Homo sapiens: one gene and its partners. The protein of the gene in region 1 purifies or fractionates together with the protein of each later gene. This does not show direct contact. Each region holds a gene or a part of one and is shown on either strand. Other genes may lie near its edges.

What was found.
Region 2: the proteins of SLC2A3 (region 1) and ALDH1A1 purify together in Homo sapiens (affinity purification with mass spectrometry; one large-scale study listed by BioGRID and IntAct). This does not show direct contact.
Region 3: the proteins of SLC2A3 (region 1) and RAB6B purify together in Homo sapiens (affinity purification with mass spectrometry; one large-scale study listed by BioGRID and IntAct). This does not show direct contact.
Region 4: the proteins of SLC2A3 (region 1) and TM9SF2 fractionate together in Homo sapiens (co-fractionation; one large-scale study listed by BioGRID). This does not show direct contact.

Annotation. Positions count from the first base shown.
Region 1 is NC_000012.12:7,928,632-7,933,933, reverse strand, and holds part of SLC2A3 (solute carrier family 2, facilitated glucose transporter member 3), read left to right. Parts: intron 1-31; coding exon 32-124; intron 125-786; coding exon 787-947; intron 948-2,448; coding exon 2,449-2,689; intron 2,690-3,291; coding exon 3,292-3,454; intron 3,455-4,062; coding exon 4,063-4,250; intron 4,251-5,302. UniProt on the Homo sapiens protein: Facilitative glucose transporter. Can also mediate the uptake of various other monosaccharides across the cell membrane. Mediates the uptake of glucose, 2-deoxyglucose, galactose, mannose, xylose and fucose, and probably also dehydroascorbate.
Region 2 is NC_000009.12:72,943,054-72,947,365, reverse strand, and holds part of ALDH1A1 (aldehyde dehydrogenase 1A1), read left to right. Parts: intron 1-4,312. UniProt on the Homo sapiens protein: Cytosolic dehydrogenase that catalyzes the irreversible oxidation of a wide range of aldehydes to their corresponding carboxylic acid.
Region 3 is NC_000003.12:133,829,883-133,834,194, forward strand, and holds part of RAB6B (ras-related protein Rab-6B), read right to left. Parts: intron 1-4,312. UniProt on the Homo sapiens protein: The small GTPases Rab are key regulators of intracellular membrane trafficking, from the formation of transport vesicles to their fusion with membranes. Rabs cycle between active GTP-bound and inactive GDP-bound states.
Region 4 is NC_000013.11:99,559,660-99,564,548, reverse strand, and holds the end of TM9SF2 (transmembrane 9 superfamily member 2 precursor), read right to left. Parts: intron 1,859-4,889; coding exon 1,791-1,858; 3' UTR 501-1,790; downstream 1-500. UniProt on the Homo sapiens protein: In the intracellular compartments, may function as a channel or small molecule transporter.

The sequences.
Region 1 (5,302 bases):
CTATTCTCTCCTCTGTCTTCCCTCCCTCCAGGTCACCCCAGCTCTGATATTTGCCATCACAGTTGCTACAATCGGCTCTTTCCAATTTGGCTACAACACTGGGGTCATCAATGCTCCTGAGAAGGTGAGTGCCAGGCCACAATAATTAGAATTTAGAATAGGGAAGTTATTCCTTTAAGTAGGGTTTCAGGAATTCAGAATTTAAGGCCAGGCATGGTGGCATCTGCCTGGAGTCCCAGCTACTCCTGAGGCTGAGGCTTAAAGATCACTTGAGTCCAGGAGTTAAACACCATCCTGAGCAACACAGTTAGTGAGGGTCCCTCCCCAAACTAGGGGATTTTAAGACAAACTTTGTATCTATCCTGTCCAAGACTGAAGATGGAGACAATATTGGTGGGGAAAATTAGTGGGGTCATCTAATCGAAGCACAAAGCTCACTTACTCCCGGAACGCTGGGCGGTGCTGTTCTTCCTCCCACTCTTTCACCTCATAGTGATGCACATCCTGTATTATCCCTTAGGGGTTAGTTACAAAGAAGCTGGGTTCCCTTAGCAGAGGGCTGGGGTAGACTGTGAACATCGGTGCTGCCACCTACTGGGATTTTCAGGACAAATAGAATTACTATTCCAGCGAGAGTTAACATAAATTCCAATACGTTATCTGCCCCTTCCATTCCTGTCTATTTATTCCCTTGATTCTCTAGGAAGGAAATGATCCCTAATGTTTGTCTTTTGTTCTCATCCAACTGTAACAGTCTGTTCTTCCACCAACCCTTTTATTTTGCAGATCATAAAGGAATTTATCAATAAAACTTTGACGGACAAGGGAAATGCCCCACCCTCTGAGGTGCTGCTCACGTCTCTCTGGTCCTTGTCTGTGGCCATATTTTCCGTCGGGGGTATGATCGGCTCCTTTTCCGTCGGACTCTTCGTCAACCGCTTTGGCAGGTATTGACTAGAAACTGGGCAAGGAAGTGGGCTCTACCAGCCACATTGAGGACAAGTGTGGAGAGTTAGGGCAGGGAGGTGATGATGCCTTTGAATAAGAACACCTTGAATTCTAATCAAGGGAAACCTAGTCCAACTGGCCCCGAATATGACTGCCCTTGCTTGGAGCTCTACTACCCTGGAGAGCTCCCACCCAGCTGTGCAAGAGATGAACTGTGAGTGATTGGCCTTTGCAGTCCAGCTAGGGATAGTTCAGAATTATTCCCTAGTAAACTCAACTATGGGGTTTCTAGAAACATACTTAATTTACAAGGTCCGAAGTTGTTTACTTGTATTATAAATGTTTTTATTATTTTACCCAGGATTGGTAGGAATTATTTTTGTCTATGGCAAATGTGGATAATGACAAAAAAAAAGTCTTATTCTATAGAAGCTTAACAATATGTTTTAGAAGGTAGAATATATTTTCATTTATGACTAATGAAGGAACTGTTTTAATTTGCCAATTAGGCACGGTGTGGTGGCTCACCCCTGTAATCCTAGCACTTTGGGAAACCGAGGCAAGTGGATCAGCTGAGGTCAGGAGTTCGAGACCAGCCTGGCCAACATGGCAAAACCCTGTCTCTACCAAAAATACAAAAATTAGCCGGGCGTAGTGACAGGCACCTATAATTCCAGCTACTCCGGAGGCTGAGGCAGGAAAATCACTTGAACCTGCAGTGGGGGTGCAGAGGGTGCAGTAAGCTGAGATCTGGCCACTTCACACCAGCCTGGGCGAAAGAGCAAAACCCCGTCTCAAAAAAAAAAAAGCCGGTGCCGTGGCTCACGCCTGTAATCCCAGCACTTTGGGAGGCTGAGGCGGGCAGATAACAAGGTCAGGAGATCGAGACCATCCTGGCTAACACGGTGAAACCCTGTCCCTACTAAAAATACAAAAAATTAGCCGGGCGTGGTGGCATGCGCCTGCAATCCCAGCTGCTTGGAAGCTGAGGCAGGAGAATCTCTTGAGCCTGGGAGGCGCAGGTTGCAGTGAGCCGAGATCCTGCCACTGCACTCCAGCCTGGGTGACAGACCAAGACTCCGTCTCCAAAAAAAAAAAAAAAAAATGCCAATTAGATATTCTAGAAATGCAATTGGAATTCACATTTAAAAATCGGTAAAGCAACCTGTTTTACTTGATTATGTTGTTCTTTTGTTTTTTTACCCCCCAAGAAAGAGGGTCTTGCTCTGTCACCCGGGCTGGAGTGTAATGGCCCAATCATAGCTCACTACAGCTTCGACCTCCGACCTCAGCTCCCTGAGTGCCTGGGACTACAGGCGGGCACCATCACACCTGGTTCCCAACTAGAAATGTTCTGATAATAGAAAGTGAAAAACAAAAGTTAGATTAAAAAAAAAAGGGATGATATGAGCCTGGAGAAGAACAGAATAATGAGGACAGAGGAGAAGTTAGGAGCCTCTCACTTTGCTAATTCTACTTTGTCTTTGATTAACCTTACAGGCGCAATTCAATGCTGATTGTCAACCTGTTGGCTGTCACTGGTGGCTGCTTTATGGGACTGTGTAAAGTAGCTAAGTCGGTTGAAATGCTGATCCTGGGTCGCTTGGTTATTGGCCTCTTCTGCGGACTCTGCACAGGTTTTGTGCCCATGTACATTGGAGAGATCTCGCCTACTGCCCTGCGGGGTGCCTTTGGCACTCTCAACCAGCTGGGCATCGTTGTTGGAATTCTGGTGGCCCAGGTACTCTAGAACTTCTCATACTTAATGAGTGTTAGTTTCATGGGTCATTAAAAAAGTTAACATAGGTAAAGCACTGAAGAATATCTGGCACATGTTCAATTACATATGGAAGTTTTAGATAATAGATAGTAGCTGAAGAAGCAGGCTGAGGCCGGGCGCTGTGGCTCACGCCTGTAATCCCAGCACTTTGGGAGGCCGAGGTGGGCAGATCACGAGGTCAGCAGATGAAGACCAGCCTGGCTAACATGGTGAAACCCCATCTCTACTAAAAACACAAAAAATTGGTCGGGCGTGGTAGCGGGCACCTGTAGTCCCAGCTACTCCGGAGGCTGAGGCGGGAGAATGGCGTGAACCCGGTAGGCAGAGTTTGCAGTGAGCCGAGATTGTGCCACTGATCTCCAGCCTGGGTGACAGAGCAAGACTCCGTCTCAAAAAAAAAAAAAAAAAAAAAACCATGCTGAGTAGAGAAAGGAAAAGAAACACAATTTGTTTATTTTTTCACATGGTAAAAGAATGTATGATTTTCTGAACTTTTTGTGTTTTAATGAACTTGTGGCCTGTGAAGTATGGGGTTTATAGCATTATCTTTGTGTGGTTTCTAGATCTTTGGTCTGGAATTCATCCTTGGGTCTGAAGAGCTATGGCCGCTGCTACTGGGTTTTACCATCCTTCCTGCTATCCTACAAAGTGCAGCCCTTCCATTTTGCCCTGAAAGTCCCAGATTTTTGCTCATTAACAGAAAAGAAGAGGAGAATGCTAAGCAGAGTGAGTATCCTTCACACCTTACTACATGAATTATATGGTTGTGGTTTGTTTTAGGGATGATTGTACTGGACCTACTTTCTGTTACACTCTTTCCCTGCCTCTCAGAATCCAAGTGAGGAGGGTTCTGATTACTCCTGAGTAAAATTTTCAGCCCCTAAAGAATGAGGTGAAAAGGCGGGTTTAGGAATGGATGCTATCAGGCAGGGTGTGATGGCTCATGCCTGTAATCCAGCATTATAAGAGGCCGAGGCGGGTCACCTGAGGTCAGGAGTTCAAGACCTGCCTGAAACAACATGGAGAAACCCTGTCTCTACTAAAAATACAAAATTAGCCGGGCATGGGGGCGCATGCCTGTAATCCCAGCTACTTGGGAGGCTGAGGCAGGAGAATCGTGTGAACCCGGGAAGTGGAGGTTGCAGGGAGCTGAGATCATGCCATTGCACTCCAGCCTGGGCAACAAAAGTGAAACTCTGTCTCAAAAAAAAAAAAAGGAATGGATGCTACCCATCACCTCACCTCGTGCGGCCCTTTCCTGGCTGCCTTACAGGAAGAATGAATTTGGGGCAGCACATTCTCTTTTATCCTTTCCTCTTTCTTCTTTTCACCAGTCCTCCAGCGGTTGTGGGGCACCCAGGATGTATCCCAAGACATCCAGGAGATGAAAGATGAGAGTGCAAGGATGTCACAAGAAAAGCAAGTCACCGTGCTAGAGCTCTTTAGAGTGTCCAGCTACCGACAGCCCATCATCATTTCCATTGTGCTCCAGCTCTCTCAGCAGCTCTCTGGGATCAATGCTGTGAGTGTGATACTTTAGGGTCAAACGTGTCTTAAAGTATTTCACTTAAAATGCCGGGCATGGTGGCGGTGTGCCTCTGTAGTCCCAGCTACTCAGGAGGCTGAGGTAAGAGGATCACTTGAGCTCAGGAGTTTCAGGTTGCAGTGAGCTATAATTATGCCACTGCATTCCAGCCTGGGAGACAGAGTGAGACTGTGTCTCTGAAATTTAAAAAAAGGAAAAAAAAAAAAGACCCTGGAAGGACACTGGCAACTTCAGAGTGAACTGACTTTACCAGTCTGTTTTTACAACTAGTATAGCGAGCATGGTAGTTTAAAGAGGGCATGATAGATGATAGTTTAAAGAGGGCGGCACAACGGAAGCTAGCATTTGGCAGGTAGCCCTTGTATTCCATGCAAATATCAGCTTCCTGCATTTGACTGTGGATTGTAGGAAGAGAGTATTCCTGTGCCTTCTAGTCAATATGGATATTAAGAGCACCCTTGTCCCACCTTTTTAAATACTGATTCATCCCCTAAGGGTTTTCAGATAGTCTTTGATCAATGGGATTAAATTATTTTGTAACAAAGCATTTTGCAAAACTTACTATTTTGAGCATTTTGATGCTCAAAATAGTAAGTTGGTTCTTGGAACTTTTCTCCTACCTAGCACACCAGGATATTTGTATTTGAAGTGGCAGTGCTTCTTATGAGGGGTTAGAGGCTGTTATGTCAGAATCTATGAGGAGCCAAGTGTGGTGGCTGCTCATGCCTGTAGTCCCAGCTACTACTCGGGAGGCTGAGGTGGGAATATCACTTAGGCCCAGGAGTCAAGCCTGGGAAATATAGTATGACCCTGTCTTTAAAAAAAAAACTTGGGAGGAAATACACAGTAGTTAGAAAAAGCCTCCTAGGTGATTTTGATGAATCCCAGTCTCAAATTTCTTCATTTGGAAATGATAATGTAGGCCACACGTATTACTGGAGAAAAATGTGCTCCCGAGACTTTCCAGAGCAGCAGAGCTGGGACTAGGCAGGTGAGGCAGCTACGTGCAAGTGTAGCCCTGAGAATGA
Region 2 (4,312 bases), on another chromosome or scaffold:
TAACTTCAATGCAGCAACCACCTTCCAGTTACTTCACAATAGAGCTTCCAGTTTCTTCCAGAAACTAGCACTCAGCCACATCAGAAACTTTCCTTTCAGAAAGTGCCAGAGCTAAGCAGAAACATGATGATGGCTACAAACCAGTGACAGAACCAATCATTGATTTTAATAGTGGGAGATAATCATTTACTAATATTTAGAATGCTCATCTCTGAGGACTGCTGTCTTGGCAAGTTGTTTTGTTTTCTGGCACCTGCCTGACTGTAAGAAAATGGAATTAACAATTCTAAAGTAAAGAACACATGTCCTAAGAGAGGGTATTGTCCCCATTTCATAAGGGCTCTCAGTACAACTCTTTATATAACTTTGTAACAGGGACTTTAACCTATTGAATTTGTCACTACATACTTGCCAGAATGAGGGAAACACTCTTAGAGAATATGAAAAATAACTCATTTGAAGACCAACCCAAAGTAAAGGTAATGACTCTGAAATGGCATGGATAATCTATAGGATGATATGTTGCAAATCAGCATAAAATAAATCTCACAGAAATACAGACATCAAACAGAGATATCTGAAAATAGCAATTATCTGGCTTGGGATGGTGGTGTGGGGGGGTGCACTTTGGTTTGATTTATCATGATGCTATTATAACTATAGCCAGGGGATATATTATATGTTTACAAAGTGTAAGTGACAACATAGAACCATGTTCAAAAGAATTTGAGCAAGGATTGCTTCACAAACCCTTACTTAGAATCCAATAAATCAGAAAAGTAAATCTGTGTAATACTGGTTTTCCTGACGCTGACATGTTTTGGGTGTATAGATGTATATAGCAAAAGTATCCACAAACTTAGAAGCATTGCTTGAGAAGGATGTGAAGTGTTGCTAATATTGGGTTTTCTGATATTATCTCTACCTGATTCATTGTAACGTTTGACTTACTAATGGAAATTTGTTCACTGGGGAATTTGCACAAATCTCACATCTCTAAAAACTTTGCCTGAACCGTTCCCTCCCCCAACCCTGGTCCCATTTCCACTGACTATTTCCACTGCTCTATCGATACTTTTTTAGATGTCAAAGGAATACAAATAACTACTGAATTATGCTTTATATTTGGCATTCTTTTAGAAGGAAGAGGGCTTACATGCGAGCAATTCTATTACTAGGTCTTGATACTGCTAAAAATGGGCAGAACTTTCTATCGCTTCTACATCTTAACTCTGATACAGAAAATATATGATGTACAGAAGTTGCTGACAAGTTTTGTTATCATCTCTAGGACACAGTGATGGAGTGGCTCAAAACAAATGCTGTGGCATCTTTTCTCTTTCCCTGACACAATTGAAAAGGCTGATGGGGTTTTGCAAACAACAAGAAAAAAGAGTATATACTCACGTTACTAAAGTCAGACTATCATTTAAAACAAATGAAAGGAAAATTTTATTTCTCCTATTTTTTGTTTTCGTCATTCTGTCATTTTGTTTTCATTCATTTGATGACAGTTAAAAATTTTCTTTCCCTTTGTTATTTCCTCCTTAATTTCCTTTTACATTTTCTAACTTTGAGTCTCAACATTTTGCTTTCCTGCCTCAGGGTTAGGGTGCAAAGCAGTTGCCAGAGATCCAGCTTTGATTCTTTTAAATGTTTAACACCCCACCTGACTTTTGTTCAGTCTCTCCTCCTCATTATTCATCTCCGATCTCATACTCCCTGACTCCCAGCGGCCTTTAGTACTTTGGTAGGTTCCTAAGCTGAGAAAAGGTTGACACATTTACAGCACACACCAGTCTCCACAGGTTCACACCACCACCCATGCAGCCTATGCTGTGACTCAGTTCTCAAGTTTGAAAATTCACATGGATGACATTAAATGGGGACTCTCATCACCCTCCCTCTCGTTTGGAAAATCTTAAAAGAAATTCTTTGTGCATTGAAAATGTGATCTCTTAAAATCTCTCTCCCACCAAGAAAGTATTGCCTTCCTTTACAGACTCTAGGGCTGCTGGCCCAGTTGCTGCCCTGCCGAGATAATATTAATTTAAGGCACTCTGAGTATCTTTTGCAAGGAGTCAGGGGCTCCCCACTTTAGCCCACAGACTCCAAAATCTCATATCAGCAGATAAGGCAAATAGGGCTTTATTTTGCCACTAGTCAAAACTAGCTTTATCCAAGCCAGAAATATTTTGAGAAAATTATGCTTATTTATTTAGAACTGTAGATTTATACACAATACATTAAGACATAATAACTTTTACTCTGGAAAGGCAATTTTTTTCACAATTATGACTAATTCTTGGACACCAGTTGAATCCAGGAAATGGCTACTTGTTTATCAAAGGTAAAATGATGCATTTCTTAAAATGTGGCATATCTAAAATCTGAAGTGTAAAAATCCATTTCTAAGTTGCCTCAACATTTCTATTGATTGCTTCCCCATATAGAAAGTACTTGAAGTCCAAGAGTATGCATAGGCATTTATAATTTCCAATCAATATTTCAAACAGAAGGTTGATGTCTACTTTACATATATATTATTCAAAAGTCACCTAAGTCCAAAATTCATAATTAGAATTGAGTTAATATATAATGGTTACATAGAACCCAAGAATATTTTACTTTTATAGTATCATCTCTTTTCCTCTAAGCTGGCTAAAGGCAAAAAACAAATGGAAAATAATATTGTCACCATTATAGAACATTAAACAAGCCTAATGTAAATTTTATAATTATTATAACAAACATTCATTAGCCTAGACTTCTCCATATAACCATTAATATAACTATAGGAACAGTGATTATACAAAAACGTTTGGTCACACAGTTAGCTGGAAGGCAAATGCCCAATGTAAAGCTCCTATAATTAAAACAGAAAAAAAATGTATTTGAGGTAGGCCCTATGAATAAATTATCTGTAGCTAAGGGGAAGAAAAAGACTGGGCAATACCTGGCCTTCTAACCATCTAGGTCATCACATTACCTATGCCAAATTCCCTTTTCATGCTGAAACGCCTCTGTTTGTGGGAGAATGGCATAATTCATAATTTGTAGACTGCACTGTTACATCACTCTCCTTCAAAAGCCTGTGACCTTATGATAGGATTATGAAATTAGTCTCAAGGCTAATTTCTTGGACTCTGGTTGGTCTACTTCAAATCTACTTGGGATACTTTAAAATCAGTATTCCTAAACATCCATTTGATCTGGTCTCTCTCCCTTTTTATATCCAGAATAGAGCCTAAACTTCTTTCTCTGGGGATCAGGATCTGCCACAAATTGACTTTATTTTCAATGTCAGGCCTTATCTGTGACTTATGTCCACTGCAACTCCATTCTGTTGGGAGCTGCTCTGTTTACTGTGTTACAAACCTCCAAAGATTTGTCCCTCCCTTTACTCTTTTTTTTTCCTTCTTTCCACCAATCCAGTTCCATCCTTCAAAGAAGCATTCTTTCAGCCTATGCCCCTCTACACCATTTATTGACAACACCGCTGCTTTGGCCATTTTGCTCCACAGTCTTTAATTCTGTACTGGCGGCTCTTGATATGAATACATTCTCCTCTTAGATTATAAGCCCCTGAGAGCAGAGGCCATGGCTAACTCATCTCTCATTTTTCCACAATAACTGCCAGACTATGTCTCAAGTATTTACTCATTATTGGACAAACACTTTTCTGATAAAGCAAAAGTTACTAATCATGATTATATAAATGTCAACACAAGTTCAAACACAAGTTGGGCTCACAGTGTCCTCCTGTCTTAAAGGTTAAAACTGAATAATGCAGAACAGTGCTGGTAATTTGGGGTCCTCTACAGCTGATCTCTTCAGTTGCCTGCAGGCTGCCAGATAAACATGTGTTATTACTTCAGGTTAATGCTCATTTACAAAACATTCACTGGCTTTAATCTAAAGTGGCAGTTTTATGTACAGCTTAGATGCAAATTCTGATCATGGAACTAGATGGTACATACATACTGTAATAATTCTTTTACAAAAAAGTGTGTAAAGAGAGTAAAATAAGCTATAATATATTGAGAGCATATTATTGAGAACTTGAAACCACAGATTATCACAGACCTAAGGATAAGAGGACTCGGGCGAGAACTAGAAAGTCCGACCACAGGCCTAGCAAAATGTAATTGATTCTGTATGTTGTTTTATTTTATTTTTAATGAAATTACATTGTAGAAGGGTGAAATTCTGGATCTCTGCCAAAATGAAATCTGTGTTCCCTTAGTTTACAGGTACAAAATCTAAGGTGGTAATACAATCTTTAGGCAGAGAGAAGGCAGAATTCCCAAGT
Region 3 (4,312 bases), on another chromosome or scaffold:
GACTTTTCTTTGCTTTTCCTACCTTTATTTTCCCCATGTGTGTGTGTACACACATACACATACAACTTTATCTTGTGTGTATGTATATGTATCTTATACCATGGCAGCCTATAAATGAGTAAATAGATACTAAGCCAGTGCCTTCCTTCCCACTGCCCACTGCAGCCCACCTTTTGTTCTCTCTACCCTAGTCAAGCAGCCTGCTTCTCTACTGCCCATCATTTTTGGTAAACCCACTGCCAGGAATGCCCTGCTGTTTCTCTCTGCCAGCTGCAGTTCTATGGCCCATGCCGGCAGTGCAGTCCTGTTCTGTATTGCTGGCCTGGGCACAGGCCTCCTTGAGGTCTCCTGGTCTTCTCTGAGTGCCCCTCTGAGCCCAGCCAGCTCTCTCTCAGCATGGTGGCTTCCCAAAGCCAGCTCTGGTGACAATCATGTCACACTCTGCTACAGAAACAAAGTGTCCACGGATTTCTCACTCTGGCATTTAAGGCCTCCCCATTTAGGGTCACCCCAAGCACCTGTTGACGCTAGCTTATCCCCTTCCCTCAATCACACACCAAGGCTCCACCAACCAGATTTTCCCTGCTTTAAACACGTCCTATGCTTTCCTTCTTTCCTTTGTTCATGCTGTTCTTTCCTTCTAGAAGTGATGCTCCCTCCCCCACACCCAGCCTTCCTCCCCATCTCCACCTGTAAAAATGTCCTCATTCCTTGGGCCAGGGTGCACGCATTAGTGGCCTCTCCTGCTGAGAGCTACCTCACTTCCACATTAGACCTCGTGCAGTGGGGAGTAAAAGAGCCACCTTCCAGCTGGGAAGCTGAGGTGCCCAGGTACAAACCCAAGGCTATCTTGACCCCAGCCTTCTACTTTCACTGACCTGGCTGTGCTAAGCCCCTTGTGGATGGGCTTCTCAAACTCAACACTACTGACATTTTGGGCCAGACAATTCCTTGTTATGAGGGCGTCCTGTGCACGGAGGATGTTCAGAAGCATCCCTGACCACTATCTATGAGATGCCAGTTAAACCCCATTCCCCCTCCCCCAATTTATGGTGAGCCAAAACGTCTGAAGACATTGCCAAATGTCCCCTGTGGGGAGGGGAGGGAAGGGCTATCAGTCCTGGTTGAGAACTAGTGGTCTAGCTTGAAGGTTGGCCACTGTTACAGCATTACGTTCTGCCCAGTATTGAAGTCACCTACGACCACTAAAACAATCTCATGCGCAATTTGATCACAATACTTTTGTACACTGCACAGCAATAGTTCTCAAATGGATTGCATCAAAATTTTCTGGGATGTTTGTTAAAAATACGTCTCACTGGGTCCTACCTTGGTAGATGTGGGGATGGGCCCCAGATGTGTGTTTTTAACAAGTTCTTTGGAGAGTCCCAATGCACAGACATCCGGGAAACCAATTCTACTGATACTTCTAGAACAGCACTGTCCAAAGAACTTTCTCCAGTGATGGAAATATTCTATATCTGCACTGTCCAAGATGTCACCATTAGCAACATGGGCAACTGGGCACTTGCAAGGATGCTAGTGCAAGTGAGGAAATGAACTTTTAATTCAACTGAATTTTAACTAATTTAAGTCGGAACACCCACATGTGGCTGCAGAATTGGAGAGCACAGGCCCAGCTCTTCCGCTAGGAGCCTTCCCAAAGGCTCTCATTTAATGACACCTCCTTCCTTGTTACGCCACATGCTGCTGAAATGCAGTGCTCAGGGGCTGCCCGCTGATTGAGAGGACAGGGAAGAATGACTGGACCCATGTCTAAATAATGTCCCAGAAGGGGAAACTCACGGTTTCTCACAAGCCTCAAGAGGTTAGATATGTGCCTTTCCGGCAGGCATGGCCAGAGCACACCCGCCTCTTCCCTCTGGGTCAAGTGTGGCCCATCACGGGCCACATTCAGTGCCCAATGTCCCTTCTCCCTGGTTCCTGGAAGTGATGGGTGGGCCCAGACAGCCTGTTACAAACTTACCCCCTACTGCTGGATATGCTTCCCCAATCCCAGTGCCTCTGACTCTACTGCAGCACAATCCTGTCTGTATCTGGAATGTCAAAGCACACCACAGCCCCATCAGAGAGTGCAACAGGGCTGTGGAATCCAGTCATTTGGATGTGGTTCCAGCTCTGAATTAAGGAGCTGGGAGGCCTTGAGCATGCTCTATCTGGTTTGCGGCGTCACTGTCCTCACCTGCTTAGAGCCACTTCATGAAGTGCCCACACTACTGCTCTTTCTTTGCGTAAGCCAGCCTTGTTCAGAAACAGTCTGGGGCCCATGTGATGGGCGCATACTGTATTTGGGTAGAAAGTGGGGGTTGGGGGGTTGTGTATGTAGAACCAGTAAGGGGCTTATGGCTCTACCATTTGGTGGCCCCTTGGCTCCTACTTTGTTGAGAGCAGACCAGTGGAGGGTGCTGCTGGGCAGAAGTATTGGCCAGAGCGGCCCTGAGGGGTCCTCCTGTCTCGAACGTGAAGAAGAGGTGCAGCAGCCCCCCATCTAGACCTGCAAGCAGCAGACGGAAACCTCATGCCACACATTCACCAAGTCCTGAGCTGAGCAAGTGAGGCCAGGTGTGAACAGTTTATACAGCGCCACAAAGCAGTGCTTCTGTGTGGCTGCTCTCAATGTGGAACACAATTATGAACATGACCCCAAAGCACACACCTTCAAAACACCTGGATTTGGACTGTGAGTAAGCAGAAATGCCAACACCCCATCCCGAAAGAAGCAGAATGACGGCTGCCTCTGCCTGGTCCCTCTGGGACCTCTGGTGGCCGCTCTAGCACCTGCCTCGTGAGAGGCCCAGCAAGCTGGCTCCTGGGCAGAAGTGAAAGGATGGGGGTACATCTACCCAGATGAGGGGACCCCTTAGCTAGAAAAAGGGACACAGGTCACAACACCCTGTGCAGTCTGTTTGCAACCTGCCATGTATCCTTTCTCCCAAGGGGCCCAAAGGTCAGTGGTAGCTGGATGAAACGCTAGGCATACCAGGACGATGACGAGCTCACTGTCACCCTGCACTCAGCCCAGTCTGACCTGACTGTGGGCCCAGCCTGGAGCCCTCAACAGCGCGACTCTGGGAGAATGTGAATGAAACGATCACCACTCACCCCGGCCAGTGTGCCACACCTTGGGAGCTGGTGGGATGGAGAGCGGGCAGTGCAACCCTTCCCCTTGCTGGCAGGCACAGCGGAGATCGCCTGCACCTTGTCTGCCCCTCTCCCTTGTTCCTGCTCCTATGTTTGCCCTTCAGGTTGGCTTCTGTATGTTCCTGGAACCTCAAAGGAGTCCCATGTGACAGGTGATTCCACAGGGGCTCTCTCCTGAGCTCTGGAGCCTGTCTCTGCTACTGAGAGCCGTGGGGTGCCCTAGTTTAAGTTTCTGAGCCTCAGTTTCCTTATCTGTGATTGGAGTCTCATAACTGACCAACCAGGAGATACTCCTCAAACCCCCTCCTCTCGGCCACTGCTTGTCCTCTGGTGACACACAGACCGTGGGACTGCTGGGGCACCTGCTCCTTGGTGAGCCTTCCTGACCCCCCCGGGGGGTGGGTCTCGAGTCTGCTCTGAGAGCTCCTTGAGCAAGGCTGGAGAGGCCTAGCTTCCCTCCAGGCCTGTGTCAGGCTCCCCCTTGCTGCAGCCCTGGGACTCCTGGTGTCCTGCCCGCCCTGCCCCAGCAGCTCCATGAGGCCTCCAACATTAAGCTGTGTGCTTCTTTTGCTTTTGATTCTCATCAGCCCAAAGGTGCCCTTCCATCTTCCCAGGGCCCTTCTTTGATCTGTCAGGGATGTCTACCCTCAGAGGCCTATAGGATCAGTGGGGGATGTTGGAGAGCTGCTGTGTAGGGACAGGTCCACTGTAAAGGATGCCAGCCAGGGATCTGCATGCTTGTTTTCTGGTGGCTTACTCAGGCAGGGACATCTGACTAGATGCAGGGGAGGCCCAGGTGTGGGCAATGGCTTCCCCTGCTGAAACAGTTTTCATCTGATTCTCTCAAATGCCCTTAGAGGGACAGTGTCCCACATGGAATAGGGCTGGATATGGAGGAAGCAAGCCTGAGTGTGAATCCTAACTGTAACTTACATGCTGTGTGACACTGGGCAAACCAGACTACCTCTCTGAACCTCAGTTTCAGCATCTAGGTGTCTCTTCAGGTTGGGGCTGGTTTGTGGGTGATGCGCAATGGTCCCACAGATCAGTGGGGAGCCTCAGGAGCTGTTCAGGGCTGGGTAGAGAAGGTGGGCGGGACAAGGAGGGGGCATCTGTCTGAAGGGGGGAGCTGTCTTGAGTAGACTGAACC
Region 4 (4,889 bases), on another chromosome or scaffold:
AAGGGTTCTGGAACCAATCTCCCATAAATACTAAGGGACAACTCTACCCATAAAAAATAAATACAAGAGATACATAAAACTGAAAGAAACTCTTCTATCTTAAATATTCCATGTTAAAAATGAACAGAGCTCCTCCTTTACTCTTCAAAACCAACAGGTCCGTTTTTTTAAAAAAGGACAGTGACATAAAATTATTCAGTAAGGCTGGGCGCAGTGGCTCACACCTGTAATCCCAGCACTTTGGGAGGCCGAGGCGGGCAGATCACCTGAGGTCAGGAGTTTGAAACCAGTGTGACCAACATGGAGAAATGCCGTCTCTACTAAAAATACAAAATTAGCCGGGCGTGGTGGCACATGCCTGTAATCCCAGCTACTCAGGAGGCTGAGGCAGGAGAATTGCTTGAACCTGGGAGGCGGAGGTTGTGGTGAGCCGAGATCTCGCCATTGCACTCCAGCCTGGGCAACAAGAAGGAAACTCTGTCTCAAAAAAAAAAAAAAATTATTCAGTAAGAACCCAGCAATATCATATAAGTGACAGCTAGTAATTTTAGTTGTAAGTTTAATGACAGTATCTGATTTGCTCTCCTAAGCAGCAAGCAGAGAGACCCTAAAATACAAATGAATATGCTCACAGATACAAGCAGACCGATACTTCAGAATCACCCCCCATTCCTATATTCTACATAAATGGATTTCAATTAGTCAGATGAATGTGAAAGACAGTGCATTTCTTAACTCTTAGAAGTAAAACTGTTTGTGAAATCTAAATTAAAACAATGAAATCATAAAGATGAAGACTTGCTAGTGATTGCTAATGTCCAGGTAATAAAACCTGACTTAAAACACTGTATTTTGAAAAACAAGTCAAAAATAGAAACTCCTTAATGACAATGTAGTAAGGCTCCACCTTAAGTACTTGCAGATAATTCATCTGTCTAGATATGCATGACTTCAACCTCCTCTACTGCCTCACAGTGAACATTTTAGACAATGCCTTACACAGTGAAATTCCATTCAGATCAAAACTCAGAAAGTGTTACATTAACAAAATCCAGTAAAATCTGATAAAATAGTATAAATCATTTCAAAACACCTTGGTAAATAGATCTGTATTTACAGAACCTCCTTGAATATATAATAGGTAATGATGCAATGAAGACATTTTTATAATATTTATTAAGATAACAAATTTATAAATTGAAAGACTCAGAGGCACATAGTTTAAAAGGCCAATACCATGGGAATAATGAAGTCAACACAGAAAAGTAAGAAGATATGAACAGTTACAACCAATAGAAGATTTTCTTTAAAAGCCACATTCCCCTGGTGAACACATCATAGGAATCATCCTTCAAAATTACCATGATAAAAAGTTATTTCCTTCAAAGAAAAATAATTCTTTCTGCCTACCGAGCCTAGAAAATCCTATTTACAATGCAGTGTCCTGCCTTTCATCAGTATTATTTAATATGGCCTCCTCTATTCTGCCATTAGAAGTATGGAAAATTTTATAGCTACTGTATTTACAAATGCACATAATATTTAAATTTGCTCTTCATTGAGAACAACCAAATATATACTTAATCAAATCACAATACAAATGCTTTATAGTGTTGAAGACACATCTTATGGGGGAAAGGTGTATGGGAAGAGGTTTATTTAGAATTACGGTGTTTCTGAAGGATTACTAGGCCAATAATTCTGATAAAACTCAAGGCAGTCACAAAAACAGGTCTTTGTTGATGAAGAGTTTAATTTATTTCTGTTTTAACTGGACACACTGGACTTCTTCAGTCAACCTTCACCACACTGTATATTTTGGTAACAAACCAAAAGCATGCAAAGAAGCCAATTGTTCCTATAAGAGAAAAAATAAAAATAAACCCCTTTTCAAAGGAAGTTTCATACTTTACACAAAAATACAGACTTACAATGACTGGTTCCTTAAAAAAGTCGCAAAACTATAAACTATTACCCACCGGGAATATACTACAGATCTATGAGCACGTCTGAAAAATATACGACCACCTCAAATCAAGTTTCTTACAAAAATTGGTAGAACTTTTTTCTACTATAAGATTACCTAAGCTTTCTACAATACACATTATTTTCCTTACTACATAGAAAAGACTGAAGGATGTCAACTGTCCTTTCCTATTTAAGAATATTTTACAACAAAATGGAAAACGCTACTAGAATTTTTTAAGGTATGAGATGAATACATTAAAACAGGTTCAAATAATGATTAAATGGGGATATTTTCTAAGTACAGTTATTGGAAGTTATCAGTCTTCAAAGAATTATAATAAAATAACTCAGTAAGTTTTTACAAAATGTTAAAAGTGACATGATTAGATAGTAACAAAAATGCATCCTAGCTGAAAATGAGGGACAGCATGGTAGCAGAGAACAGAGCAGCTCTGTCACAAACTGTGTGTGTCATCCTTGGGCAAGTCCACTGACATCTCCAAGCCCATTTATCATATTAACTAGGGAGAAATTTATCTGTCCTCATTGCCTCCATAGACTATTATGTAGAGTAAATGAGATAATTCATGAAAACAATGTATGGCTTGATTTTCAGGTATCAGTCTAGATTCCAAAGAATTTGAATGCTAGATGGGGACACTCTTTCAATGAGACAAAAATGAGGTTCAAAGGGGTTAAGTGACTGTCTCATGGTCACATGGATGGTACTTGTGGCCAGAAATCAAATGCGTTTTTTCTGACTTCAAGCATAGTACTCCTTGCACATGCACACATAAGGGACTATAAATAATCCTTGTATAAATTTTACATTTAAAGTCCCAATAGTTTTCACCATTGTTTTAAATGCAGTACTCTGAGAAAATATTAAAGGAGATTTTCTAAATCAAGAGACTATACATGGGACATTACCGTGGGAAATTACAAACATCATTATATCCATCCTTACATTGTACATGTATTGAGGCCCTACTATATGCAAAGCACAATGTGTGTTTTGGAGGACATACAAATATACCTTTTGCATAGTCAAAAGGATAATTATTCAGGCTAGGGCTGGGGTTAATTTCAGAAAAGCAATAATGAAAACTCAGTATATTTATATAACTTTGTACTTACTTGCATAAATTTCAAGATGACAAACAATATTTTAAGATGAGAAGAACATTTAATCACTATCCAGGCAACTCTAAGAAACTTAAGTTTAGTTACTTAATTTTGTTCTTAATATGGAATATATGTACGTACTAAAAGTGGCGTCTTTCCTTTTGTGACAGAATAATTACTTCTGTTTTGTAAAATGGATTGACTTAAATACAATAAAATGGCATTGCTCTGGAGTACTGAAGCAAATACAGACCATACCCTATTTTAGAGAAAGGTAAGGCATTTAAAGGGCTCACTACTCCCTTATCCAGAATGCTTCCACCTGTTCACTAAAGGAAAAATACAATTGAAGAAAGTGAAATACACTATAAGTTACTGGTTTAACTGGTTGGTTCCATTTGATATGACTCCATAATTCAGATTACAAAATTCAACTCTGAATGAATGAAAATATAACACTTTAAAAAACAAAATCAGCTGGGCGCAGTGGCTCACGCCCAATCCGAGCACTTCGGGAGGCCAAGGCGGGCAGATCGTCTGAGGTCAGGGGTTCGAGACCATCCTGGCTAACATGGTGAAACCCCATCTCTACTAAAAATAAAAAAAATTAGCCGGGCGCAGTGGCGGGCGCCTGTAGTCCCAGCTACTCGGGAGGCTGAGGCAGGAGAATGGCGTGAACCTGGGAGGCAGAGTTTGCAGTGAGCTGAGATCGCGCCACTGCACTCCAGCCTGGGCAAAAGAGTGAGACTCCGTCTCAAAAAAATAAAAATAAAATAAATAAAAATAAATAAAATTTAGGTGATGGTTAAGCTATCATTTTCTGTATCATATGTCTGGAAAAACAACAGATATTCACAATGATCGTTATTTTTTGTGTGTAGGCTAGGAATAAATTATTCTGTATATGCATTTATGGACACACAGGGCACAAAAACAGTCATTCCTTGTTTCACTGGCTACTGCTGTTTTATAGATGATTTATTAAAATTTACAGCTCTGGACCTAAATTTATCACGTAGCACCAAGACACGCACCCCACCATGTCTGATCAATGACCTGGAATACAGAATCGATGGAAGTGCCTTAAGCCTGAGACAGCAGCAGAGGCCCTTCAAAACCCGACTCCAGGCTCTGAAATGCTAACAGATGAGTGAAAAGTAGAACAGTTTTAATTGGAGGAAAAAAACTTGTTCTTTTTTCTTTTTGGCTCCTGCATTTTCTTCCATGACATGCGTGAGGAGCTAACATTTTAGATGCACGCTTCGGGCAGCGTTACTTGTGACAAAGGAAGGTGCTATAATTCCTAAGTTCAGTCACTCACGCGACAAATGTTTACCAAGCACCCGGGGCTGTGAGATACCGAAAACTTTCATCTAGTTGGATAGAGAAGATATATACATATATAAAATAAATACCAATAAAATACACACTATATCCTGTTCAATGCTTGAATTTTAAAGTGGAGATAAAAGCTTCTAGATTAAGGAATGTCCCATTATCTTTCCTTGATATCCCCTACCTACTCTCAGCCTCATCTTGACTTCACCTCCTCAATTTCTACTTACTCCTAAACTTAAGTCACTATAGCTTCTACCCTATTTCTGAAGTGGCAAAAAAAAAAAAAAGGACTGTGTGTACCTTTAAGAGGTTAACAGACGAAAACCATGAGCTGTACTGGCCCATGCGTCCCTGAACCTTTACCACAATTATGACCCTGTTTAGCCTTCTTCCCCAGCTTCTGTTTCATCATCTTTATGCAACTCACAGGTGGGCAGACCCAACTATGCCTAGTTGTG